Linked DNA regions of Homo sapiens. The protein of the gene in region 1 interacts with the protein of each later gene in a biochemical or structural test. Each region holds a gene or a part of one and is shown in the gene's direction. Other genes may lie near its edges. The genes, in order: MYO5A, BMF, DLGAP1 and RPH3A.

What was found.
Region 2: the proteins of MYO5A (region 1) and BMF form a complex in vitro, tested with the Homo sapiens proteins (one study listed by BioGRID).
Region 3: the proteins of MYO5A (region 1) and DLGAP1 form a complex in vitro, tested with the Homo sapiens proteins (one study listed by BioGRID).
Region 4: the proteins of MYO5A (region 1) and RPH3A form a complex in vitro, tested with the Homo sapiens proteins (one study listed by BioGRID).

The regions. Positions count from the first base shown.
Region 1 is NC_000015.10:52,308,874-52,315,900, reverse strand, and holds part of MYO5A (unconventional myosin-Va), read left to right. Parts: intron 1-1,697; coding exon 1,698-1,778; intron 1,779-2,052; coding exon 2,053-2,205; 3' UTR 2,206-7,027. UniProt on the Homo sapiens protein: Processive actin-based motor that can move in large steps approximating the 36-nm pseudo-repeat of the actin filament. Can hydrolyze ATP in the presence of actin, which is essential for its function as a motor protein. Involved in melanosome transport.
Region 2 is NC_000015.10:40,091,853-40,098,879, reverse strand, and holds part of BMF (bcl-2-modifying factor), read left to right. Parts: intron 1-5,004; exon of another isoform or gene 5,005-5,277; intron 5,278-6,991; coding exon 6,992-7,027. UniProt on the Homo sapiens protein: May play a role in apoptosis. Isoform 1 seems to be the main initiator.
Region 3 is NC_000018.10:3,528,292-3,535,318, reverse strand, and holds part of DLGAP1 (disks large-associated protein 1), read left to right. Parts: intron 1-703; coding exon 704-1,125; intron 1,126-7,027. UniProt on the Homo sapiens protein: Part of the postsynaptic scaffold in neuronal cells.
Region 4 is NC_000012.12:112,864,725-112,871,751, forward strand, and holds part of RPH3A (rabphilin-3A), read left to right. Parts: intron 1-689; coding exon 690-819; intron 820-2,032; coding exon 2,033-2,116; intron 2,117-3,705; coding exon 3,706-3,871; intron 3,872-5,034; coding exon 5,035-5,073; intron 5,074-5,168; coding exon 5,169-5,315; intron 5,316-7,027. UniProt on the Homo sapiens protein: Plays an essential role in docking and fusion steps of regulated exocytosis.

The DNA.
Region 1 (7,027 bases):
GCCCAATACAATTAAAACTCAATCAGTTTGAGACCAGCCTGACCAACATGGTGAAACCCCATCTCTACTAAAAATACAAAAATTAGCCGGGCATGGTGGCAGGCACCTGTAATCCCAGCTACTCTGGAGGCTGAGGCAGGAGAATTGCTGGAACCTGGGAGACGGAGGTTGCAGTGAGCCAAGATTGCACCACTGCACTCCAGCCTGGGCAACAGAAAAAATCAGTAGGCCAGGCGTGCTGGCTCACACCTGTAATCCCAGCACTTTGGGAGGCTGAGGCAGACAGATCACCTGAGGTCAGGAGTTCAAGACCAGCCAGGCCAACATGGTGAAACCCCATCTCTACAAAAATACAAAAATTAGCCAGGCATTGTGGCGGGTGCCTGTAATCCCAGCTACTTGGGAGGCTGAGGCAGGAGAATGACTTGAACCTGGGAGGCAGAAGTGGCAGTGAGCCAAGATTGTGCCACTGCACAGAGACTTCATCTCAAAAAAAAAAAAAGTCAATCAGTAGACAATCAGAATCAAGACTTGCAGCTTCTTAATGTTGAATTCATGTTTGCATAACTTCTTACTAAGAATAAAGCAGAACTATCTGACAGAACAATGGTCCTGAGATTTCCTCCCAGTTTCTGCAAGTGTGGAAAGTAAGAATACCCTGGAGGAAGCCCAACTTTATAGAAGTTGGCTGCCATTCAACTTCTAAAGAATATACTTTAATACTTAAATATACTTTAAGCATATTTCACAGAGTGAGGCAGACCTGCAGTTTATTTATTTAGCAAATATTAGTTAACAAAGTGGTCCCACTTTTTAAAATTCAAATACTTGCCTCCGAGAGACTGATCCCTAATTCAGTTTGTCACCCACAGACCTGATAACAACATGCCCACTTTCTAGTTCTCTGGTGCTTAATTTATTTTCCTATAGATCAGCACTGTCCTGCATTCAACTTTTATTTTCATTTTGTGTTAATAGCCACATGTGGCTAGTGACTACTACTGTTGTATTGGACAGCACAGGTTTAGACAATACCTTGAAAATGGAAATATCTACCTTATATAGACGATGATTTATTTTCATTAGAAAAGAGACATGACCATTTTACAAAAAAAAATTATTGAACTTTTTAAAAAAGAACTTCATACTCTCTAATTGATTAATTTCTTTAGGGGCTTTTGTTATTCATGTTATTTATGATCTTTTATAAAAATATGATTTAAAAAACATTCAAAAGAGATAATTGTATTAATACGGCTAACATTTTTATATGGAGAAAAGTTGCAGAATAGTATTAATAGAATGAATCCCATTTGTATAAAAATAAAATGAACTAGAATATTTATAGCAGCTAGAGGGGGTGTTCAGGACATGGTTAACAATTGCCACTTTGGGAGACTGGAAGGATGGAAGTGCGGACATTTATTTTTCATGTTTTATTCTCTTGTGCTATTTGAATATCTTCGAAATTTACACAGCTTCTTACAATATTACACAAACATTACATTGATACATTCTCTTGTAAAAATTCAGATAAAGGTAAATGTGCAGACCAGCTCCTCCTTCCTTCTGGTCCCAGCCCACCCCTGAGTAGAACTGAAATCTGTACGCACAGATCCTTTTAATTTTCCAGATTATAGGTACCCAGTGTGTATTTGATAATATGCCAAAAACTTTGATCATTTCATTTCTCACAGATTGTGAAAGTGTTGAATTTGTATACTCCAGTTAATGAGTTTGAAGAAAGAGTCTCTGTGTCGTTCATTCGTACTATACAGGTAAGAGCTCCCATCTTCTTCTTTGATTCACCAACACAGTCTTTTGAATGGACATTTTGTAATTTATTGAAGGATAATGTGTTATCTTTTATTATCTTATTTTACAATGCACTAACTTTTTTGATAATAGTTAATTGGGAAAATGAAGTGAGTTTAAAACAAAAGTAAACATTCTTCATTAGTTGAGAATTTGAGGGTAGAAATTTTAGTAGAAAAAAGTCTTTTAGATTCAAAGAACTGATGCTCTGTTTATTTTTTTTCCTAATCTTCTCAGATGCGTTTACGAGACAGGAAAGACTCTCCCCAGCTGCTCATGGATGCTAAACACATCTTTCCTGTCACCTTTCCTTTCAACCCATCTTCCCTCGCACTAGAAACCATCCAGATTCCAGCCAGCCTCGGCCTGGGCTTCATTTCACGGGTCTGAAAGTGATGTCCAGGCAAAAATTGACAATACATTTCTTGCCCGAAATAAGAACCCATTATTTCCAGTGAGTTACTGAAAATACATTTTTAAAGAGAAAGTACTGATTATCTCCCAAATGAGAAGTCATTAACTGGAAATCTCCCTAGAATACTTTCATCACTTTGGAAACAAAGATAGGCTCTTTCGTGCTGTGTTATCTTTATAGCAACACTCATCCTTAACCAACTAGGTACCGTGAGTTTACATACAGGAGAATGATGGAAGGAAGGGAGGAAGGAAAGGAGGAGAAAAATGTGTCTTCAGCTGGCAGCATTTATTTTAAATCCTTAGCACTGAGTTTGAATGGTATAAAAAGTATAACTTCCATAGATGAGCTGTTGTTAGGAAGGCACCAAAGAACCTCCTCTGCACTAAACAGGAGAATGGAAAGAAAAGTCTCCATTGAGTACATATCATGTCAGTTTAGTAATCAATTATGTTGATATTGTTAAACTGGTTCAAAGAAATAAACTGGCAATATGTAAAGTAATTCCTCATTTGTGTCACTATGATATAGAGATATTAAAGGAATGTTGGTTTGCTAAATAGTATAGATGTCCATTTGTACTATAGTTTACTGAGCATTTTAAATTGCTGCTACATACTGTCTTCTTAAAATGTAAGTGATATTAGGCACTACAATAAGTTTCTCTTGTCAATTCTGTTTACAATTCAATCAGATCACAGTTTTAACTGGATTATATGCAAATACCTACAGATTCACCTGCACAAGTAGCAGACACTGGAAAGTCATGTAGTAATATGACAAAATGCTTGACATTTAGGGGTAGGATTAGACAAAGTGGCTATTGTTGATGTCATTATTTATTCAGGATGTATTACATTGATGTGCTCATTAATTTTCCCTGGGTGGATATTGCGTCAGGGTACAGTGTTCTGTGAAGTGACTTATTTTTAACTACCAGATCTGATTCCTTCAGTGCATATTTTCAACCTTGACAGGTTTTCTCTCTTCTTAATTTATTAAGAATTAATCTCGGCTGGGCGCGGTGGCTCACGCCTGTAATCCCAGCACTTTGGGAAGCCAAGGTGGGCGGATCACTTCAGGTTAGGAGTTGGAGACCAGCCTGGCCAACATGGCGAAACCCTGTCTCTACTAAAAATACAAAAATTAGCCGGGCGTGGTGGCACTTGCCTGTAATCCCAGCTACTCGGGAGGCTGAGGCACGAGAATCGATTAAACCTGGGAGGCGGAGATTGCAATGAGATCGAACCACTGCACTCCAGCCTGGGTGACAGAGAGAGACACTGCCTTGGAAAAAAAAAGAATCTCACTCACTATCTAGAGAGGATTGTCAGAATATTCACGATTCAGGTCTTGAAACTTTGATTATGCAAAAGAAGGTATATAATAAATATTTCATTATGATTCAGTTTTTAAGGCTTTGCAGCTTCTATAAGTGTTCTCAGATGCCACTAGATAATTTTAAAAGCATCATATTAGAAATACTTTAAGAAGACTTATATAAGAAATAGAAGATTGTTGAATTTTACAGAGGATTTGGTTCATTAAGACCCAGATTCTGTAAGTTTTCATTCTGAAATTCTAGTTAAACATATTCACCATTTTTCTTAGGAATCTTATACAATAAATCCTTCAGGTTGCACAAAAGCAAATTATTAGTTTTCATTAGAAACTCTGGTTCTGAATTACAATCATAGGTTATATAAATTTAACTGTTAGATGGTCTATAAATCTTATTAAAATATGTGCAATATTTATGGAAGTCAAACAGCTTCATATCAGTGATAAAGATTGTTATTAAAAGATAAATACTGTCTGTTAATTTACATGGGCCTCAAGTTCCTCGTTTATAAAATAAGAGAGTTGGACACTGATTCTTAACATCTCCTCCACATTTAAAATTCTCTCTTCTCAGCCCTTAGATTCTAGAGAGAAAAAGCTGCAGTTACTCAGTAAGTCCATTCTCTGATGGAAAGACCAGTGTGTAGTGCCTGTCAATTCCTTAGGATTAATCAAATGTAAAATCACAAGTTTGTGTAGCTGTAACCTTTCTTAAATGTACATGATTTATGTACATGCTTTTAGAAGGTCCTACTATATTTGTATTATAATTAGTTTAAGTAATTTTTATTACATCATGTATTGCTTTATTCAGTTTGAATACATTTATTTATTTATTTGCAGTATCAACCAGAAACACTACCAATTGCATCAAATTCTCCCAGTTTTTCCTGGTTGTCAATGCGGTTTTCAATGCACAATTAAGTCATAGCCATTTGGTTCGTACCAAATGTGTCAGAATCTAACAGCATCCGATAGGCTGTAAGTTGGGGAGTTGCTAAGAAAATGCAACGTGGTACAGGCTGTCCGCCTCAGCCCTGGAAATCTCCCAGACCTCCCCCAGCTTCATCCTGTGTAGCACGACTCAACGTGCACCCTGAATCTTCTCAGGTCTTCCAGGTCATGCTGTAGCTGTCACTGCCATGCAGCCCTTTTTTTTACTCCGGACAGCTCATGTACTGAAGCGTCATGAAAGAAAGGCTGTGGTCTGAGCCCTTCTCTCCCATCTCCTGTCTTTGTCCTGTCAAGTGCTGGAGCCAGAGCTCCTACAGCTGCCCTTGGTGGTTTCTCCTGTTCAGCGATGGTGGCACAAAGGTTCTGCTATTCCAGGGCTCCAGCTTCCTCCCAGGTCTACCCAGAGCTCCAGATGGGGGTCTGAATTAACCTCTCTTGGTGGCCTGGAGATTTTTAGTCATTGACAAGAATACCTTGTAACCAGGGAACCCCAAGGCCCAGTAAATGATTCTGTATACCATTTTCTTGAAGGTACAAGAAGATTCTGCCGACTATGGGGATCTTTGGGCCAGTTTGAGGATTGCTTTCCCTCTGAGGTTCTTTCTCTCTGTCAGCCACACTTTCTCACCCAACTTCAGACACACCCTGCCAGCCTTTCCCCTACTCATTCACTCTTCCCCTTCCCTCAACTTAATCGTCTATCCCGTTGCCTGCTGTTTGACTGTGCACTGAAGGCAGGTGGATGGAGTCAGTCCTCAGTTGCCCCTGCTGGCCTTCCTGGTGCTTACCATCAGCCCAATCTTTGCACAGTCCTTGTTGTTCTTACTTCTCTGCATGCATTCCTTCAGAAGATCAGTCATCAACTTTTTCTTAATTCCTCTGTGACACACAATGGGAATTCAAAGGAAGAGATCTTAAAAGTCACAACAGTTCTTTATCTTAATAATCCCCTCCCCATTCACCTTACTACATGCAGACTCACCTCACACCCTTACAACTTGAAGCTGAAAATTTAAAAGTAATTTCCCTTTTTGCAGCTTTTCCTCAGGTTAAGGCTTTGATCTGCCTGAGAGTAACTCTAAAAGGAGGGAAGATAAATATGGGATAAAATCCACAAAGTGTAGCTTCTAATTCCTTTGGAAGTTTAAAAAATTTCCACATATCTGATGCTTCTTTTGTCAGGTGCAGAAGCACAAAAACATATTCCGAAGCCAACTGATAGGGAATTTGGGGATTATTGTCAGTTTGGAGAATTTGCTGTGTTATTTCTTCATTTCCATGGATAGCTCATAGTTGGCTCTTTCTGGGTGAGTAATTATGTGTAATATAGATCAAATCTTTTACTAAGGTTACAGCTACATGTTAGGGGAGGCTATGAAAATACTATATTATTATAATTTCAGTGCAGTGATTGTTGTGAGAAATAACTTTCATGGTAACCCTAGGAAAATGGGCACCTGCCACCATCCTGAGAAGTCCTCACACAATGCCCTTTCTCTCTTACACACACACACACACACATACACACACACACACCCCCGTCACTAATTCATAGAGTTCCTTAGCAGGCATAGTCAAGGATCCTCTGGGTAATGTCAGCTGCTTAGTGATAAAACAGAGCCAAAACTAGTGCATCCTGTTGAAAGTAATGCAGAAACAGTACCTGGGTCCAGATATGCTTTCCTGCGGCGCTTTCCTCTGTTACCTCGTTTCATCCTCACAGCAGCATGGACGGTAGGTGGGGTCGCTTCTACAATCATTTCTGATGATAGCTTGGGAATAGAGATAGGGGCAGTGACTTGCCTGATGTCGCACAGCCCTCTGGCTGTCCTGCTTTCCCATATGGAGCAGTGGTGGTGTGGGCACCTGTGATGCAGGAGACTTTAAAAATGTCGTGAGGTCACGTGCTGCCCCTCCTGGTACGTGTGGAATGCCCCTGGCCAGCAAGGGGTGCTTTTTTATCAGAGTTGGCAGCTGGCATGTGGGAACCGAGCAAGTGCTGCGTACCAAGTTACTTGTTTTAAGGAGACCAAGTGCTCAGCGCCAGGTGGTTTTCTTTTTTGTCATAGTTACTTGCTATAACTCAGCTTGACTTCTGTCATGAATCAGTGCTCTCTGGGAGGATGCAATACTCTGTTTGGGCATTAATTGGTAGCAGGTTGTCTCAACCAAAAAGACAGGAAACAGCAAAAGCCTCTCTGAAATTAAGAGGAAAGTTACTCTCCCCACACCCATCAGAGTCTTTATTGGAGCCACCAGGTGAGCTGTGCAGCCTGGACAGGCCTGCAGCTATAGGCCACCTTCCCAGTTTAGGTCCTCAGCACAGGGGAGCCCAAGTCACTGGGTGCCTTCCGAGGGCTGTCACTGGGCAGGCCATATACAAGTCAGTGTGTGCGTGGGCACTGCAGTGTGTGCATGCCGTAGGTGTTGATGGGTGCTAGGAGGGGTGTCGTGTGCATGCGCGTTGAAGAGGATCTGTATTGCCGTGACCTCTGTTCATGG
Region 2 (7,027 bases), about 12 Mb from region 1:
CACACACTCTGCACCTGACTGCTCTCTCTTCCAGGAGAAGGGCCTTGTAGTTCCGGAGAGTTCATTCCCTCCCCACCAAGGCCTGCCATGGGATGGAAATTGGCTTTTTTTTTTGGAAAGTGGGTGATGGGAGGAGGGGACTAAGGGAGACACAAAGAAAGAAGGTTAAAGAAAAATGACTGGTTTGCCTTTTGATCCATGTCTGGCAGCCAAGAGGTCATGTTCCATGACCAGAGCACACAATCAGTCCGTGTGTGAAGGGGAGGGTTCCATCCTTCCTCCTTGCCTGGTTTGCCTTGACCTGGTCCTGGACAGGACATGAACAGTCAGCTGAAAAGACCCCAAGTCGAGTGTCAGAACCTGGGGTTATTTTGCATAGCATAATACACACAACAGGCTTGTCCCCCGAACCCCCTCCCTCTCCCTTCTTTAACCAGGGCACACACCATTGTGCCCTTCTGAGCTCTGAAGAAGTTGCCCAGTAGTTTGATGGAGCTGTTCTCAGCTTGAAGGAAACTGAGTAAGGGTCTCAGTAGTTCCTCCCTCCAGGCTGTGGAGGTGCAAAACAAGGGTCTGGGGACATGGATGGTGCAGCACAGCTCTGTCCCCGAACCGTACCCCTCAACCCCCAGTGGCTGGAGCCAGTGTCTTCCAGTTGCGTTAGAGGAAGCCTTGCCATCTTCCACTGAGAGCTGGCTGGCTTCGGACTGCTCTTTTTTCCTTAGAGAAGCAATGGGCGTGGCCATGGTGGCTTCAATGTCCTGTTAACACTGCTGGCTGGGCTGAGGAAGCTCTTGGCAAGGAGTCTTTTTTTTCCTTTTCCGTTTTGCCACGTTGCTCGTTCCTCGGGCCTCTGGGTCAGAAGCAGTCTGAGGCAGTGGGCCCACTGGGTCCAAGGGGTTGCCCTCTGGGTTTCAGAATCCTTGGCTTACCCTGGCAGCCTAGAATCCTGAGCCCCATGGCCTGTGGCTGCTGTGGGCAGTCTCAAAGCAGAAAGTCAGGGATCTCCCAGGGATTTCGTGAGTCTGCCGGGAAGATGGTGCTCCCCAGGCCGGCCCTGTTGCAGAGCATATTGAGAGACGTGCTCTGCAAAGCCAGTGAGTCCCAGGTTTTCCTTGTGCTCCCCAGGGAAGGAGGAGCCTGCTCCTTGCAGCCCCCAGGCCCAGTGCTTCATGTATATTTTTCTTACGTAATCACCACAGCAACCTTGGACTTTTAGACTCCATTGCCACTGTGTTATAGGAAACTGAGGCTCAGAGAAGTGAGGTAACATGTCCAAGTCACACCGTAATTTGCTGAGCTAGGCGTCATACAGATTTGATGGATTCTGGAACCATGGTCCAATCGCCCCATACCTGCTGCCCAGCAATCACATTCCGGAAAACAAGGGTACAAGGAAGCACACATTTGCTGCCCCAACCCGCTCTGCCTCATGTGATACTCAGCTAGGTGCTCTTGCTCTTCTCCCCATTATATTGTAAAACAATTGAGAACCAAGTTTATAATATTTTAATCATCTTTGTATCCACATAACTCTTAGCTCAGTTGGGTGCTTAGTAGCTCAGTTGGGTGCTTGGTAGCTCAGTTAGGTGCTTGGTAGCTCAGTTGGGTGCTTGGTAGCTCAGGTGTTTGGTAGCTCAGTTAGGTGCTTGGTAGCTCAGTTGGGTGCTTGGTAGCTCAGTTGGGTGCTTGGTAGCTCAGTTGGGTGCTTGATAGCTCAGTTGGGTGCTTCATTAAAATGTCCTTATTTCAACAGAAAACATCTTCCTAGCTTCCTTCAAGCAGGAATTTTCCTGCTCTCAATGTTCCTGTTCTTAATTGCAAGGCTCTTTCTTTCAGCCTTGGCCTGAGTAGGTTTAGAGAATGACAGGGAAAAGGGAAGAGGGAGGAAAACTTCACATCGTGGACTGTGCACCTTCCCCTAGAGTATAGACAATTCTGCATTTTGAAGAGATTGAGTGTGGTTTCAGATCACAGTCTGAAGTTATAATTTCAGACCAGTTTTAGCTTTATTTCTGTTTGATCTTCAGTTAGCTCTGCCTCTGAAAGGGTTATTTTTTTCTGGTCCACAGCGTCCTTACTAAATAGTTAATGATCTGGAAACAATGTCTTTAAGCATACTAGGGGAGCAGATCAGTGGTGATTTGCTTTGAAAAAGGTAATGCTATTTTCATAATGTCAATAAACACACTGTAAAATTTTAGTGAAGGAACATAGCTTTGGAGTCAGAAGTCAGGGCCTCAAATTACACCCCTCCCAACTAACTTGGGATGACTTTTCTGAGCCATTGTTTCCGTCGCTCTAAAATGGGTTGATTAATACCTGCTCTTCCTATCGTGAGGATCACATGAGAAGAAAGGAAAGTGCTCTGTTCTGTATCTGAGATATTATAAGTTGCTCTCTGTTTGGTAAATTTGCATTTTGTGAGTTAGGTTCTTTTAGAGCTGCACACGGCTTCGCTTTGCTTCTTCCTCTGATACTTTGGGGTGAATTAGCTCTAGCTGGAGCATCTGGAACACTGGTGACACACAGAGCCCCCAGAGGGTATGAATTGGATCTGAAAAGGGGAGAGGCAGAGGGAGATTCTTATCCAGGGAGCGTAGGGAACACGCTTTGTGCTTAGGGCAGAGGCTGTGTGGGATGAAACAGAGTTTGATTTATGTAATCCAACCTTGTCAGACACCACAGCCAGCTCTTTAGAGAAAAAAAAAAAAAAAAAAAAAAAAGGAGGCCTTTTACTAGTTGGGCCTCTCCCCAGGTGTGAGGCTGATACTATCACATAAAGTACATCTTTAGACCTGGCCAGACATCAGTTGTTCCTGGCCTCAGACAAGTGGGTTATCTTTCAGGGCTGACTCCTCTGTAGTCGGTCCAGCATGCCCTTGTTGAGTGCCTACTGTATGCCTTCCATGTTCCCCATTACACAGGATGAGCAGCTGTGCATTCAGGCATAGGGTGTTGCACACAGTAGGGATTGAAACATTTGTCAGCTGACTGCCTTCATCCCCTGTCCGTGGCAAGAAAATGAGGCTGGGCCAAAGAAGCCGCATGGGGCTCTGATGCCTGCTTGTGCTCTCTTCATTGAAGAGAACACCGTGATCTACCATGTTAGGGCACCTTCCCTGGGGGCATTCACCTCTATTCATTCCCTCCATTCCTTGGCCCTGCCTTCTAAACCATGTGAGTCCGAGGGCTCTAGGGTGAGCTTCCCCTCCTCTGTATCCCAGCCCCGACCCTTGGGTCACCCTGACTGTGTATTCTGGGAACTCCCATTCTGTGAGGGGTTCCCTAGCTGAGTCTAGGAGGGCAGGCCTGGTTCTGGGGATCTGCCCTTGTTGATCTCAGATTGTGCGCTGGGTGCTGTGCCGGGTGCCTGAGGGTCAGAGGCCAAGTACACTCATTCCTGGTTCCCCTCTCTTCCCCTTCTCCTCCACACCCTCTTGTGGAAGATCCCACGTTCTCTGGTGTTTTGGTATCTTTGTGTTCTTCATCCTGTTCAGTGAAGGCCAACTTCCTTCCTCCTCACTGTTTCTCCCACTGGCCTCCCTTCAAGTCTTTTTTCTTTCCTTTCTAGTCAGGCCCTTTTGTTAAACTTTTAGGAAAAATTTTATTTATTGTTGTATTTTGTAATCAGGGCATTCTTTGATTATCTTGGTTTCCTCATGGAAAAGGGTCTTGTGAGGGCTGCCCTGAGGCGGGAGAAGGCCAAAGGGAGCCTGTGTGGTATCTGCTTGTAGCCAGAGAGGGCTCATGGGCCCATGGGTGGTTCCCAGGCCCTACACTCAGCTGACAGAATTCAGTTGTTGGAGCTCTGAGTTGTAATCCTGAAGGTAGTCGTGGATGACAAACTCCTTAGGGTTGGAGAGCACCTTTGTGGTTTCCAAAAGGCTGTGGCCTGGCTGCCACAGAACCACCTGGGCAGGATTGACCTCTGGCTTGGCCAGTGGGGTAAGACATTACTTTGGTGGAAAGAGATCGAAAGGGACTGAAGAAAACACCAACACGTGAAGTGTTTTCTAGCCTGGAGGATCATGAGTGACTTTATTTCCTCCTCTGTAATGTCTTGTATTTTCCAATATTTCTACAATTAACATGTATTGCTTTTATGATTAAAATATACAATAAATGATTTCTGATCTCTAAAATGTCACCAAGGGAGCTTGTTCAGTATACAGATTCCTGGGACCCTTCCTTGAAATTCTGACCCAGTGGGTCTGGGAGAGGCCTGGAGACTCTATACTTACAAGAGCACCTCAGCTGGCTTAGTGACACAGTTGGGTTTAGAAACCATTGATCTAGTACAATACCTGCATTTTCCTTATAAGCCAAGAGAGAACTCATGAGCAGGTTGATGGGAGATCCAACCCGAAAGCCAGGTCCTCTGATTCCTGGTCCCTGGGGATCCATGCACCATAGAGCCTTCCTTACCAATTCATGAGCCTTAAGGACTGTCACACGCAGAGGCATGGAAACTAGTTCCTTCCCAAGGGCCGGCCCATGTATCCTGCCTCCTGCACCTAGGCCTGCCTGGGTCCCCTGCAAGACCTCAGCCTTCCTGTCTGAAAGCACTCTCTGGCCCACAGCTGCTTCTGAGTCCCCCAACGCTCCCAGATGATGGGAGTCTGTGCCTCATCTTCAGAGATCTCAAGTTGCCCAGGGAGTAGGTGGCCTCCATTAGTGGAATTTGGGAGAAAACTGAGGCATACAGAGATGAGAATTGCCTCAGCCCCAAATCATAGAATTCTCATCTGCTTTCCTTGGCCATTGAGCTGTTTTGAGATGATTTAGTAAAGGGGAGGCTAGAGGGTCTGCTTTGGTATAAAGAAAGGTAGTGGCACTCTGAGCACAGAGATAATGGGAAGGGACATAGCTCTAGGGCCAGATGGTCTAGGTTCAGTCCAGTCCCTGCCACTTAAACTAGCTATGTGGTCGCTAAGTAATGGGCATGATAATGTGCCTCAAAATCACCTGGGGAATCTTCTGATGCTGGGTCTGCATTTCCAGGCAGCTCTCTGATGATGCTGAGGCTGCTAGTCCATGGACCACCCTTTGAGAAGCAAGGATGCAGAACACACAGAACAGAGCCTGGCACCTCCCCACCCCCGACTGCCACCCTAACCCCACGTTACTATTATGAGGTGATGATTGTTCTTGCCACCGGTCTTCTCAGACAAGCACCTCAGGAGAACTGGAATTCCAGCAGACTGGCCTCTCCAGGGATGAGTCTGCTCCTGGATTCTCCTCTTGTTCGGCCACATGACCTCTGCACCTGTCTCGGTCAGCAGCTGGGGAGGGGAGGAGAGGGGGTCTTTGGCCCAGCTGCTGCAGGCCGGAGGCTTCGGGTTTGCAGCTGAGTCCATTTTCACGCTGTTTTACTCTAACCAGATTTTGTTAAGCCGGGTGTGTTTCCTCTTTTTACTCATCTTTGTTTACAAAACACGAGGAAGCCATCCATCTCCCCACCCTCTGTCTGCCAGGCCTCTTCTGTGGCACGCCCGATTTCCCTTCCCCTCCGGGCAGGAGCTGCGCCTCCAGCTTGCCGGGTTGTTTTCCAGGCTCTTCCACGGGGGAAGGAGGAATGCTGTTGCCATGATGGACGGGGGCATTCCGTGTTCACCTGGGTTGTCAGGCCCTGAGGCCAGCTGCCTGGATGCCTCTCTTTTTGTGGCCTAGGGCAGCGTGAAGGGGAAGCCAGCAACCTGCATGGTGGCCCTGGGAAAGGTCAGGGAGGCCAGGGCTGGACAGAACCTGGAAGCTCTGGGAGTCCAGGCAACCTGGGCCCCCTTTCCAGCTGTGCCGCTGGCTTCCTCTCTCCTCTTCCCATCTGACCAGGAGTAGTTGCCTGGTGGGGGCTGGTGCTGTGGTTAAAGACAGTTTAAGAGAAGGCTTGGACACCTCATGTAAACTTGCTTGCTGACGGGGCCACTGAAGTAATCCAAGTCCAGCCCGTGCTGGCTCCTTTCTGCACACTAGGTTTTTATTCCCCTGTCCAGTGAGAACCCTGTGGAGAGGCCCCCGCCCAGTCCTCCTGCCCTGGCAGACAAAGAGAGAACAAAGACCGCCTCTTCCAGCACCCCCCAGTTTCCACCCCCCCAGGCCTCTCCTGGGAAATGGTACCTGTGTGGGCAGGGCACCAGCCCCAATCTGGTGAGCCACTGACCCCTGAACTTTGCCCCTAGCTTCCCAGCCTGACAGTAGGACCTGGGATAACCTCCAGAGCATAGTATATATTCTTTGTTTTTGTTTTGTTTTCAAGTATGTTCTTGCTTAATGTTTAATTGGCTCCAGTCAGTAGGAGAGCGCTCCAAGAGGGATTATTTATGGCTTACTGTCAAGAGCATCTATAAAAAGGGCAGCACCGAGCTGGAGATGCTGGGGAGGGAGAGCGGGCGGGCGCACAAGGGTGTGTGTGTGTGTGTGTGTGTGAGTCTGTGTGTGTGCGTGTTTGCACTGGATGAAATCAGATTTTTGCTGCCTCAGCAGTGTGGTTTAAATTGAAGATTAACCCTTTGACCTTCACAGTGTCAAATCACTTGCAGATGGAGGCCCCCCCTTTCCCCTTGTTCTCTGTGTTACTTTGGAGTCGGGGGAGAGAGGGGGGCACTTCTTCTCTTTCTGAAGCCAGTTTGTTGTTCATGCAGCTGAGGTTTGAGGGGCTCGGGAGCCAATCTGATTAAAAGCAGCACTTGGCTAAACTCTGGAAAATCCTGCAAGCAGGGGAAAAAGCTTAATCCTCTTGTGCATAGTGCATATAGAGCCTAGTCTTTTCTTTTTAATGTTAAAACTGCAATTGTTTTTGGAGAACTCAACTCTCTCCTCCACATGGCAGTGTCTCTTTCACCTCCCCCTCCTCCCCGCTGTGAGCTGTACTGATAGGATTAAAGTGCCAGCCGTGAGACTTGGAGATCTGAACTTTTACTGGAAATGAGAGGGAGTCGTCTAAGATTGCGTTTGGGAGTTATGTTGGTCTTTTTTTTTTTTCTCCCTTCAGCACCAGCAGAACCAAAATCGTGTGTGGTGGCAGATC
Region 3 (7,027 bases), on another chromosome or scaffold:
AGGAAGTTGGACACTTCAGGTAATGGATGACAGAGCTGCACATTCTACTGGCTTTAATAGTTCAGCACTTTTCCACCTATAAAATTTCTCTTGATATGCTTTAATATTCCATATTGAGCAAAAATGAGATTCGTGCTCTTCACATTGAAGCTATGACAATCAATATGCTTGCCTCAAGGGTCTACCCCTGCCACCACCACCCCCAACACACACACACACACACACACACACACACACACACACACAGAGAAGATTGAGAAGATGAGACTTCTAATGGTCACACCTGCCAAGTAAAGTAGAAAGTAGTTTTGCTTCAAGAAATATCCTTGCCAGGCACGGTGGCTCACACCTGTAATCCCAGCACTTTGGGAGGCAGAGGCAGGCAGATCACTTGAGGCCAGTAGTTCGAGACCCACCTGTTCAACACAGTGAAACCCCTTCTCTACTAAAAATACAAAAATTAACCAGATGTGGTGGCATACACCTGTAATCTCAGCTACTCGGGAGGCTGAGGTGGGAGAATCGCTTGAACCTGGGAGGTGGAGGTTGCTGTGAGCCGAGATCACGCCACTTGCACTCCAGCCTGGGAGACAGAGTGAGACTCTGTCAAAAAAAAAAAAAAAAGAAAGAAAGGAAGGAAGGAAGGAAGGAAGGAAAGAAAGAAATATCCTCTAACTAAATTTCTTTTTTCTATTCTCCCAAGCTTCCGCAGGTTCACTCGATCCAACAGTGTGACGACAGCAGTACAGGCCGACCTGGACTTCCATGATAATCTGGAAAATTCTCTGGAATCTATAGAGGACAATTCGTGTCCTGGCCCCATGGCCAGACAGTTCTCCCGCGATGCCAGCACCTCCACAGTCAGCATTCAGGGCTCAGGAAACCATTACCATGCCTGTGCCGCCGATGATGACTTTGACACGGATTTTGACCCCTCTATTCTGCCTCCTCCGGACCCCTGGATTGACTCTATCACTGAAGACCCTCTGGAGGCCGTGCAAAGGTCAGTGTGCCACCGGGATGGCCACTGGTTCCTGAAGCTTCTCCAGGCAGAGCGAGACCGCATGGAGGGGTGGTGTCAACAGATGGAGCGGGAAGAACGGGAAAACAACCTGCCCGAAGACAGTAAGTAATGCCACCACGTGCCACACCCGTCCCCTGGGGCTGGGGTTGCTTTGTGTGTGCAGACCTTGTTGTTTTCTTCTCTGCCAGCTTCACTTGTATAACCTTGACGTTCCACACCCCAAACCAGAACATGCAGGAGAGCTAGGTGATTCCAGCTGAGTCCAGAAGTCCCTGCACAGCACAAAACCAAGAAAACTCCTGGGTAGATATAACACTGTCCTTAGCTCTAGGCCCATGACGTTCTTTTTCTTTCTGAAAATACCAAGCTCTGTGTGGAGGTGCTTTCATGTCTCTAACTTGGTCCCTCTTCTCCAAGATGATCCTGGAATGTTGCTGATCCTCAGGGGATTGAAAATAATTCTAATCAAAACATCTCATGTATCCTATGAATATATACATCTACTATATACCCACAAAAATTCTTTTTAAATAAAAAAAGAAAATAATTCTAACTAGCCCAGTGCAGTGGTGCCCACCTGTAGTCCCAGCTCTTCGAGAGACTGAGGTGGAAGGATCACTTGAGTCCAGGGGTTAGAGGCTGCAGTGAGCTATGATCACACCACTGCACTCCAGCCTGGGTGACAGAGCAAGAACCCATCTCTAAAAATAAATATATAAATAATACTAACTTTTTTCAAGGTCCATAGATACAGGTACATTGGGGATTTATATTCTTTATGATTTTGTTATTCTCATTAACATACAGCATTAAAACAAGGCTTATAACGTATAGGCCGCTAGAAACCCCCACCTATTTGTATTCTTAAGCCTGTTTGACAGGCACTTTCTCTTAGGATTTACAGGGGCAAACCCTTTAGCTGCCAAAGAAACACATTTTATAATCTTATTACAGTTGAATGGGCTAAAGTGAAATACACGATGAATACATAAAATAAATAATGGACACTCTTTTTCGCACACTATTCTTTTCTTTCTTTTTTCAGACAGGGCCTCACTCCTCACCCAAGTTGGAGTGGCGCAATCATGGCTCACCCCAGCCTTGACCTCCCAAGTAGTTGGGACTACAGGCATGCACCCCATGTGCAGCTGATTTTTGTATTTTTGGTAGAGACGGGGTTTCGCCATGTTGCCCAGGCTGGTCTCAAACTACTGAACTCAGGCAATCCGCCCACCTCGGCCTCCCAAAGCGCTGGGATTACAGGCATGAGCCACCGTGCCTAGCCTGCACACTATTATTTTCAAACTTGACCTTTTAACATTTGAAAAAGAAAAATTAACAATTGAAAAAGAAAAATTGTCAAATTATATTAACAGTTGAAAAAGAAAAATAATCAAATTACCTCAATTCTGAGGCATGTTTTACATGTTTTCAACAATTCTGAAATTAGAATGTAGCTTATATATAATCAGTATGTATTTTAATGTTGTATGTTTATTTTCCTCTGAAACATTATTATTAAATTAATGGTGGATCCTCCAACTGATGATATTTTTGAAACAAGGAAATTTGGTGGTAGGCATTAATGCCTGCTTCATGTCTGTGTGCAAAGCATCTAAAAGAGTATTGCTATGAAGTAACTTTTTAGACTTGTTTTTTAAATTACTTTTTCAATTTTTATTATGAGCTTTTTCTTTTTTTTTCTTTTTTTTTTTTGAGATGGAGTTTTGGTCTTGTTGCCCAGGCTGGAGTGCAATGGTGCCATCTTGGCTCACCGCAACGTCTGCCTCCAGGGTTCAAGTGATTCTCCTGCCTCAGCCTCCAGGTAGCTGGGATTACAGGCATGTGCCACCACACCCAGCTACTTTGGTATTTTTAGTAGAGACGGGGTTTCACCATGTTGGTCAGGCTGGTCTTGAACTCCTGAGCTCAGGTGATCCACCCGCCTCGGCCTCCCAAAGTGCTGGGATTACAGGCATAAGCCACTGTGCCCGGCCTATTATGAACATTTTTAAACATGCACAAAAGTAGAGTTTAACATGATGAGTCCCCATGTACTCGTCACCTGCTTCAACAACTGGCCAGTCTTGTCTCCACCATTTGTAGTTATTGTTGTCAGAGTATTTTTAAGAAAATCCAGCACCAGGTGTGGTGGCTCATACCTGTAATCCCAGCACTTTGGGAGGCCAAGGCAGGAGGATCGCTTGAGGTCAGGAGTTCAAGACCAGCATAGCCAATATGGTGAAACACCATTTCTATTAAAAATACAAAAATTAGCCAGGTGCAATGGCACACGCCTGTAATCCCAGCTACTTAGGAGGCTGAGGCAGGAGAATTGCTTAAACCCAGAGGCAGAGGTTGCGGCAAGCTGAGACTGTGCCACTGCACTCTAGCCTAGGCAACAGAGTGAAACTCTGTCTCCAAAAAAAGAAAAAAAGAAAATCCAAGGCATCGTGTCACTTCCCTATGTAGCTCACACTTATAGAAAACATTTTTTATATGTATAATCATAGGCCTTGTGCGGTGGCTCATGCCTATAATCCTAGCACTTTGGGAGGCTGAGGCGGGTAGATCACTTGAGGTCAGGAGTTCTAGACCAGCCTGGCCAACATGGTAAAACCCCATCTCTCGTAAAAATACAAAAATTAGTCGGGTGTGGAGATTGGCCCCTGTGATCCCAGCTACTCGGGAGGCTGAGGCAGAGAATGGCTTGAACCCGTGAGATTGAGTTTGCGGTGAACAGAGATCGCAGCTACTGCACTCCAGCCTGGGTGACAGAGTGAGACTCCGACTCAAAAAAAGGTAAAATATTATCATGCATTATCGTACGTAACAAAAACAATAATTTTTTTTTTAAAAGACAGAGTCTTGCTCTTGTCACCCAGGCTGGAGTGCAATGGCCTGATTTTGGCTCACTGCAACCTCTGTCTCCTGGGTTCAAGTGATTCTCCTGCCTCAGCCTCCTGAGTAGCTGGGATTACAGGCACCTGCCACCATGCCAAGCTAATTTTTGTATTTTTAGTAGAGACGGGGTTTCACCATGTTGGCCAGTCTGGTCTTGAACTCCTGACCTCAGGTGATCCACCCGTCTCGGCCTCCCAAAGTGCTGAGATTACAGGGGTGAGCCACAGCGCCCGGCCAATAATTTCTTAATTAGATTTAACATCTACTATAAATCATGTTAAGTGCATTTACTAAATGCACCAAACTAGTGGTGTCAAAGAGTAGTGAGTTTTTCCCTAGGGGAATCATTTTTTTAATGAAATGGAGTCTGGAAAATAACAGTTGTCATCAGACTGGGGATATCTTCACTGTGTCCACTCTCTCACTCACAGCTCCAGTCTGCTCCTCCTGCCTGACCCCTGTCAAATGACTGACTAGCTTATCGCTTGCCTTTATGGGCAAGTTAGGAAATTCATTAACGGGTTTCTGTAAAACCCATAAATGGGTTTCCTTTGCTTCTTCATATTATGAGTGCAAACAACTTGGCAGTGGAAAAGTAAATCTCCTTGACATTTGCCCCTGTTAGTGCCACTGCAGACTCACCTGAGTGTTGACCCCCAAGCACAATTAGGTCTTTGCCCTGGTGACAGGTAAACAAGGTATGTCTCAGCAGCAGTGGGAGCAGGGGTAGTTTTCAGTAAGAAAGTCTTAGTTGGATCATCTTATTCACTTTTCTCCTTGTGGACATACTCACAGTTTATCAGATTTTCCTAGGAAAAATGCCAGCAACTAAGGAACAATGACATCCCGTGCCACTGCTCAATGGCACAAACTTTCAGATTTCAATTCTCAAATTTGGTTCTCCTTCTAGCTTCCTGATTGGTGTTCTCTCTCTCTCTTTCTTTCTTTTTCTTCCCTCCTTTCTTTGGTTTTCTTTTCTTTCTTTTGGCAGAGTCTTGCCCTGTGACCCAGGCTGGAGTGCAGTGATGGGATCATAGCTCACTGTAGCCTGGACGTCCTGGGCCCAAGTGATCCTCCCACCTCAGCCTCATGAGGAGCTGTCACTACAGGTGTGCACCACCATGCCTGGCTAATTTTTAAAAAATTTTATAGAGATAGATTCTCACTGTGTTGCCCAGGCTGATCTCAAACTCCTGGCCTCAAGCAATCCCCCCACTTCTGCCTCCCAAAATGCCAGAATTACAGGCATGAGCCACCCACCCAGCTCCTGGCTGGCTTTCAACAGGACTCTTGGAAACTACTTATCTGTTGTTTTCTTTTAATGGGCCTTTCAGTCTGAGACTTGATCTACCTCTCTCAACCCAACTCTATAATGATGTGTGAGGATACTCATTGTATAAAGATTTAGGAAAAACTAAAGGAGCTAGGAAAACAAGTCAGTTGTATTGTAATACAATAACATATATTTGAAAGGTTGAAAATCTTGTCAGAAAACCAGCTTCTCAGCCTATGTTCAGGATGAAAGAGAAACGTATTTGTATTTTGAAATGTACACTGCTGGCAAAGTCCCAAGATAATGAACATGAGGGAACTGCCCAACCATCTGTTGTTCCAGGCCTAATTTGTTGTTCAAGCTGAACTGGGTATCGCCCTGGTGCTCCTGTAATGCCCTGTGTATTTGTCCTTCAGGTACTTCCCACATTATTTTATAATAACCGATGTATCTTTCTCTTCCACTAAAAAGTAAGCTTTCTGAAAACAGAAATTATTCTTGTCTTACTCATCTTCATATCACCAGACCCTCTGACGCATAACAGGGGATCAGTAAATATGTATTTGAGTCCTTGAAATATTCTGGAAATTCTGTTTTATAAAAGTATTTTACTTAGCAAAACCTTTCTTCCTAATTAGCTAAAAAAAAACTTCAATAAGTAATACCTCAGTCCTTTCAGGCTGCTATAACAAAATACCCTAGACTGGGTAATTTATAAACAATAGAAATTTATTGCTCACAGTTCTGGAGGCTGGGAAGTTCAAGATTAAGATACTGGCAGGTTTGGTGTCTGGCAAGGGCTGCTCTCTGTTTCAAAGATGGCGCCTTCTTGCTGCAGCCTCACGATGGAGGCAGCAGACAAGCTTCCTGGGCCTCCTTGATAAGCGTAGTAACCCTATTCATGAGGACTCTGCCCCTGTGACCAACTCACCTCCTATAGGCCCCCTGTCTTACTATTTATACATTGGTAATTAGGTTTCAACATATGAGTTTTAGAGGAGCACAGACATTCAGACCATAGCAAGTAACTAACAGTTCTTGTTGCCAAAAGCTGGAAAGGTGTTCCCGTGACAGATGATGAGCTCTTCTGATCAGGACAAGGATGTGGAAGAGAGAGATGGGCACCTGCCACAGAAGTGATGGAAAGCACTTCCGTGTGGGACAGGTGGCTAGTCCAGATGAACCTTGTGTGTCCTGTCTCATTCTTAAGACACAGTTCCATTCCACAAACACTTGAAGGCTTTCTCTATTTTTTCATACTTTGAGAGACACGAAATAGGAGCTTCAAACTACTGGGATTCCAAAATTCTAGTCAGTGCCGTGGCAAACCCTGCGCCCAGGACAGAGTCACCAATTTCAAATGCGGCCAATCCAGATCAGGGAGAATTGGACCATAAAGCAGTAGCAACCCTCTCCAGGAAGAAGGGAAAATATCAGTGCATGAAAGAATATTCATCTTGCCCTCACAATACCCCTGACGATGGCCTAGAGACTTTGACAGGTGCTGTTTTATTTGCCCTCACAACAGTTCTCTGGCAGTATCTTGTCCAAGGTCACAGAAAACAGAAGTGTCTGATAGAACAGATACACATGAATAACATTTGACAAGATAATGATACTTTGCGTTGCCTGGCACTGTCCTCCTTAAAGCCCGCCATGCAGATCTGTCCCTGACTCCTTGGCAAGCACCACTCTGTTCTGATAACTGGGCCTAGAGTTGCAGAGGGCCTTTGTTTCACCAATTCTCTGACTTAACCTTTTCTTTTTTTGTAAGAGGGGCGGTAAGGAAGAGAGGCCAATCCCACTTGGCAGGCATAGCCAAATTC
Region 4 (7,027 bases), on another chromosome or scaffold:
AGCTTCCAGGACATTCATTTTCAAAGGGGAGTCTTCCTGCGTTCTGTTCACCCTCTACCCTTTCCTTAAACTGTCTGTACTTGACAATTTCAGGGCAGAATTTCTAATTCAGTTGGGCTGGGGTGGAGCCAAAGAATTCGGTTGGGTCATTGAATGTCAGGAGAGGAGGGGGTCAAGGAAGACCCCCCTGCCACGGGGTTTCTGGTTTGAGCAAGTATGTAGATGGTGGTGACATTTCCCAAGACTGGGAAGCAGGTTTGCTAGAGCTGGAGATGGAGAGTAGCCAAGATGAAAAGTTGAGTTTGAAAGGGTAAGTTTGAGATGCCTATGAAGACATCCAAGTAAAGGCATGATGGAGACAGATAAATAGACCTAAATAAATTTAACGCTCAGAAGGCAGTTTCTGGGAGGAGGTGACAGAAGATAGAAAGGACTAGATAAGGTTCTTAATCCAAAGTCAGTAGAATAGATGGGACTTTGAGGGGTGTGGGAGGGAGGTCTTTGGTATTCTGAAAATGCGTCAGAATTTTATGTGCATGTGCCTTTTCTTGGGGAAGAGTTCACAACTGTCATCAGACGCACAACAGCGTATGACTCAAAGAAGGTGAAGACTATCAACCTGACACTGTGGGGTATGCTGGTGGTCCCCAGTCCTACAAGGTCCTTATTTACCTTGTCTCTGCTTCCAGACGCCTGGTGGACCGCCTAGAAAACATGAGGAAGAACGTGGCTGGAGATGGGGTGAACCGCTGCATACTGTGTGGAGAACAGCTGGGGATGCTGGGCTCTGCCTGTGTAGTATGTGAGGACTGTAAGAAGGTATCATCATCCTCTTCTCCCTTCTTCCCTGTGCAGCACCTGCAGAGGGGAAAGTCCTAGGCTCCAGCTGTAGGGGTCACTGGGTCTTGGGGGTGGAGCTTGGATCCTGAAGATCACTTGCCAGGATATGGTTTTTTTCTGGGATGCTTCCATGCCCTACTGTCTTCCAACGTAACCCTGATCCTGGTTCCTCCCTGGAAGCCACTCTGAGCCTTCTGTCTCTTAGAGCTGAGCTCCATCCAGGGTGAACTAGGGAGCCTGTGGCAGAACATGAGCAATGATTGAGCCTGCAGATATCCTGGTTGTACCTTAGCAAGTTATGTGTCAGTTTAAAGAGCATGCTAAGCACATGTTTATACTTGTGTGTATGTGGAATGCTTTCAGTTTTCTCGTATCCTGGGTTCTGATACAAGAAACTTAGAAAGCCAAGTTAGAATTATTTGGCTTCCAAAGCATTTGTTCTCAAAGGCGAGTAATCCTGAACTCTGTTCACCCTCTAACCTTTCCTTAAACTGTCTGCACTTGACAGTTTGGGAGCAAAGATACAACTGTCCTGGGGTCTGCCGGACTCCAAGAGTTCAGTTGAACAACCCAGCTGGAGACATCTACAATGTCATCATCTCCAGCTTGATGTCACATTTGACATGTAGAATGAAATCTTGCGAAAAGTTTATTCTGAAAAACTTGCCAGTCAACTCGATAGCGAGAATTTTGTGACCCATTAAGTTTTCCTAATTGTCTTAACTTCCAGGAAATTCAATAAAAAATACAGTATTTCATCACACAGCCATGGCATTTTCTCAGATAACTTTCTTCTCCTTGGGGAGTTAAACTTCTAGTCATAGTCTAGGTTGTCTCAGGTCCGTTTTGGAAATAAAGAGGAAATAAATTAAGATAAAAAATGGATATATGGTCATTCCTCTTTAGAAAAAAGTATGTCAGTGATCTCCCCAGTGTGGATGATGAAAATTCAGATCCCACAGGGACTCTTAAAGAATTCCTTCATCCAGTGCTTGGGAATGACTCAAGTTCTTATTGGAAACAAGACTCAAATTGGAGTTTTATTCTAACTGGCCTTGCTCATAGAAGGAAGTGGGAGAAATGGAAGCAAGTTCTTCCTCTTTACATCCACCAAGAGAAAGTGGGGGGCTACGTTGCCATGCCTCCCATGAGCATGGCTCATCTGAGTGTGTTGGCTGTGTTTCATCCACAGAACGTCTGCACCAAGTGCGGAGTGGAGACCAACAACCGCCTGCATTCTGTGTGGCTCTGCAAAATCTGCATTGAGCAGAGGGAGGTGAGTGCCCTGGTCCCACCTGGTGCCTAGATCACCCTCCTTTCTTGGCCAGCTTAAGAGGTGCCTTAAGAGGTTTGTATGAAAGGACCCAGCTCAGCAGTGAACATTGACAGAACAACCTCAGAGTATTTGGATGAATTATTTCTCCTCCTCTGCTTCTGTGACTTTTTTTCTTCCTTCCCATCCTCTCTTCTTCCCTCTCTGTTCATCGCCCTCTGGCCTCTGTTCTTTCTTTGACCCCATTTCTCACCTTATGGGTCTTCCTCTCCCAACATCTTTCCTTTCTCTCTCTCTATTCCATTTCTTATTTCCATTTTTTTATTTCCTCACACTCTCCTCTTGTTTGAGCCCTTTTCTTCCTCTAATCCTTACTGCTTTTTTCTCCCCTTTCCTCATTTTGTTATTTCTCACATCTTCACACCCTTTTCTCGGCGATTTCTCTTTACTTTGTCCTCTTTCTTTCTCCCAGGCATCCTTCTCTTCCCCAGTCCTGCTTCTTACTCATCTTACCCCAATTAAGTCCTTTTTCCTTCTCCCAATTTTTTCATCCCCCATCCACTGCTGCAGAGTCCTGCCTTTGAAACCGTGTTTCAATAACCATGTTCTCCTCAGTTTCTGTCAGGGGCCTGGCAGGAAAGCATTGGCACACTTCAGTAGGATAATCAAGGGCTTGATGAAGGTGTTATTGACAAAGGTCCGGGCAGAACTAAGAGGAATCAGCAAGGGTTGGCGAGTCACCCTAGCACCAGCAAAAACAGGTTTGCTGTTTCCCCTTCTAAGGCTGAAGAGATAGAGGAGGGAATGGTTACCAGAAAGGAAGATAGGTGTAGCCTAACAGGAATGCAGTCACTGTCCAACTAGCAGTGGGTTGGGGGGAGCCAAGGAAATAAATACCGTAGTCCCACCCTCCTCTTTGCTACAAACTCTTTATTTGCCCAGAGAACTCTTCAGCAATCCAAGCTTTCAAGAGGCTTTGTTGTAATCCCTGGTGCTCTCCTTGACCAACTAAACCTGAAGACAGAGGTCAAGGTTTATTTGGTGGAGTCCAGTTAGTGCAGCCCATACTGGTCAGCCTCCTGGGGCACAGAGCAGGGTGGAGAATGAATCTGACGGGGCAATGGAAGATGTTTCACACACCGTCCTAGGTGTGCTGCTCTGTTCTGACCCACAGGGCCAGGAGAAAGGCCAGAGGTCTTGGGGAAGTTGTAGGTAGATCACCCTCTTCACAACAACCAGTGTAGTGGAGAGCATGCCACATTTAAGAGATGGAAGACTTGGAGTTGAGCCCTTGTTTTTCCATTCTCTAGCTGTGTACTATTGGACCAGTCCTTAAGATTTTGGATATTCCCCTTTCTCCATCCAAACTCCACTTTCTTCATGGGTAAACTGAAGCCCTTTCTACTGAGTTTTCAGGGTGGATGGGCTGAATAAATATGAATTGTGCAGGGCTCTGTAGTAATAATAAAAGTGTGCTGGCTATTGTGTCAGTGTGCTTTGGATGAGGAGGAAAGATAAAAATGGGCACTCATGAAGGTAAGAGCAACAGCGCTTGGCTGCCACATCTTCAATCCCTGTCTCTCCTCCCCAAGGTGTGGAAGCGTTCTGGAGCGTGGTTCTTCAAAGGCTTCCCCAAACAGGTCCTCCCACAGCCTATGCCTATAAAGAAGACCAAGCCCCAGCAGCCTGTCAGTGAGCCTGCTGCCCCTGAACAGCCTGCTCCTGAGCCCAAGCACCCTGCCCGGGCTCCAGCTCGAGGTAGGACAAAACAGGTGCTTCTTTCAGGACCAAGGACAGATCTTAGCCAACTGGTCTACCTGAGGGATGGCCTGACATCATGTCTGTGTTTCCACCCAGTTGTTGCATGGTCAGCTTCTGCACTTGGGTCTAGGACTCCTATATCTCCTTCAGAGTTCACCATAAATCGTTACCAAGAGGGTAGCACAGGGAACTCTCCAGCAATGCCAAGCCGCCCAGAGGCTTCATTGTCATCCCTGGTGGCATATCTAGTGTACAAGAGGTGGAAATTAAAATTAGGAACTGAGAGAGACTTTCACCACCAAGATCACACTGGAGCCTGGGAGAATACTCGGCTTGCTGAGAAGGCCTTCCTGGACCCTGTTATTTCTCCTACTATCCATAAGCAAGTCTGATTTGGACTAATTAAAAGTGAAAGATGAATAGAAGGAAATCAGTAAAAGAAAATTACTGCTACTAAATTGCTACTATTGACATTATCACTATTATCCAAGTATTATGATTAATTATTAAAATGATTAAGAGGGAGAAGCAAAACAGTAAAAATTTTAAAAAGCAACCATAGTAAAAATACATTTTAGTTGGACTAGACCACTAGGACTGACCAGATAAAGCCCTTGCAATAATTTCAATTGATGCTAAGTGATAAAATCTGGACTAAATGACAATTCCAGATTGAGTGCAGGCGGTACTTCTGAAAGGAAGGGTACAGCGTTTTTCATAAGATAACTTATCAAGGCACTTAGCACAATGCCTGCCACCTAAGAGGCATTCAACAAATGTTTTCTTCCTGACAAGGCAAGAGCAATTTCTACTCCTTGCAGAGAATCACCAAATTGCCAACATATATTGCATCCCTGAGGAGTCCCCAGTTTTCACCACTAAAATACTCCTTCTTCCTAGTTCTTCTAGGCTGAGAAGGCTGTATAGCATAATTGTTCTTTATAAAGCCTGTGTATGCTCATATGTGTTTGTGCATGCAAAAAAAAATGTGAAATTGTAAACAGGAGCTAGATCAAAGAGGAGGTTGGGAGAAAGACTTTTAATTTTTAAAACATATTCTTAGGCAATAGTCAATGAACCCCTTTGTAGGCTTCTTAAGTACCGGTTTTCCAGACACCAGAAAACCAGTACTCCTCATAATTTGTGTTTTCTTTCTCCAGGTGACAGTGAAGATAGGAGGGGCCCGGGTCAGAAGACAGGTGGGTTCTGCTGACTCTGTTTTGTCATTTGAGACACGAATTCACCTAATTCCCTCGATGCCCTTTCTCTACTCAATTCATGCTCTTCTTTCCAGGCCCTGACCCAGCCTCTGCTCCCGGGCGAGGAAACTATGGGCCTCCCGTGCGCAGGGCCTCCGAGGCACGAATGAGCTCATCTAGCCGAGATTCAGAGAGCTGGGACCACAGTGGGGGTGCTGGAGACTCCAGCCGGAGCCCAGCAGGTGAGCAAGATGGGCAAATCCAGAGACAGTTCTCTGGATAGGGAGACTCAAAAAGAATGAGGGGAACTGTGTTTTTATTCATTTACTTAGGCAGCATTTATTGAGTCCTACTGTGTGCCGTGTTCTATTCCAGATACTGGTTTTAGTCTATGGTAGAGGAAAGACAGGATTCAGAAACAATTCTGGCTCTAGACATCCATAATTTTGGTTAGATCCTTTTCTTGCTGTAATACCATATGTCAGAAAGCATGATTTTTTTTCTCCCCGCCTCAAAAAAAAAAAAAAAAAAACCCTGGGGGAAAAATGCCCCTAGGCTTCGAACAAAGTAAGGATGCTTCACTCTCAAAGATCTCTCCAAGTCTCCCCTTGGCAATGGCCTCTGCTGTCTGGGCATATGGCATAGGTCAGCATGGCCAGGATGTCACTGACATGTGCTCGTATTGGGTACCTCACATTTCTGGCCTCACTCTTGGTGGGTTTATTTGGTAAGAGTGCCCATTGGTAGGGGTCATGGAGCACAGGACTTTGAAGGAAATGTCTACCATATTGGAACATCTTTGTTCCATGGCCCCTTGTCTGAGACCTCAAAGCGGCTTCATTTCTTTTGCAGGAAGGGGCTGTGTCTGGGTCTAAGTCAGATTGGCTGAATATTTATGTCCCACATACATCTGGCCTTCTCTTCCTGAATTGTGTGTTTGTAGCTTAGCACTTCACTTCCTCTTATTGGCAACAGAGCTGGGCACGTACCTTGTGCTTCATAATCTGCCCAGACCTCCCCCCGACAATGAACCTATGGTTCAGATGAACAGAGAAAGAGGAACTTCCAGATCCTCAACATCAGGAAGTATTTATAGAGTGTTTACTATGTGCCAAATGCCGTCTCAAGTTCTTTTACATACATTATCTCATTTAATGTTTGCCACAACTCCAAAATCCACGTATGAGACTTCTGTTATTCGCATTTTACAGAATGGAGAAACTGAGCCTCAGAGAGGCGATGCTACTTGCCTTAGGTCACACAACTGATAATTGGTTAGAATGAGAATTAATTCCCTGTGTGTCCAATCTCAAAGCCTGTACTTTTTCTTTTCTCTTCCAGAGGTAAAGTTTCTTTTGACAATGCCTTTTAAAATTATTTTTTAATTGTTGTAAAATATATATAACATAAAATCTACCATTTTAACCATTTTCATGTGTACAATTCAGTGGTGTAAAGTACATTCACACGGTTACACAACCATGCCACTATCCATCTGCAGAACTTTTTTGTCATTACAAACTGAAACTTTGTATCCATTAAATAATTCCACACTCCTCTCTGCCCAGCCCCTGGTAACCACTCTTTTTGATTCTGTATCTGTGGTTTTGACTACTCTAGGTACTGCGTATCAGTAGAATAATACAGAATTTGTCCTTTCATGACTGGCTTATTCCACCTAGCATAATGTCTTCAAGGTTCACCCGTGTTGTAGCATGTGTCAGAATTTCTTTCCTTTTTAACCCATTATGCTGGAGGTTGCAATATTTTTGTGTGAAAAACCAGACCTTGACGGTGACTTTGAGCAGTAGGATATAAATAACTCCTACAAGCTTAGCATTCCAATAATGGAACACTGGGCATAAATTAAGAATACACAATATTCTATTGTGTATTTATATAGTGTATATATATATACACACACATAATATAGTGTACATATATATACAATAGA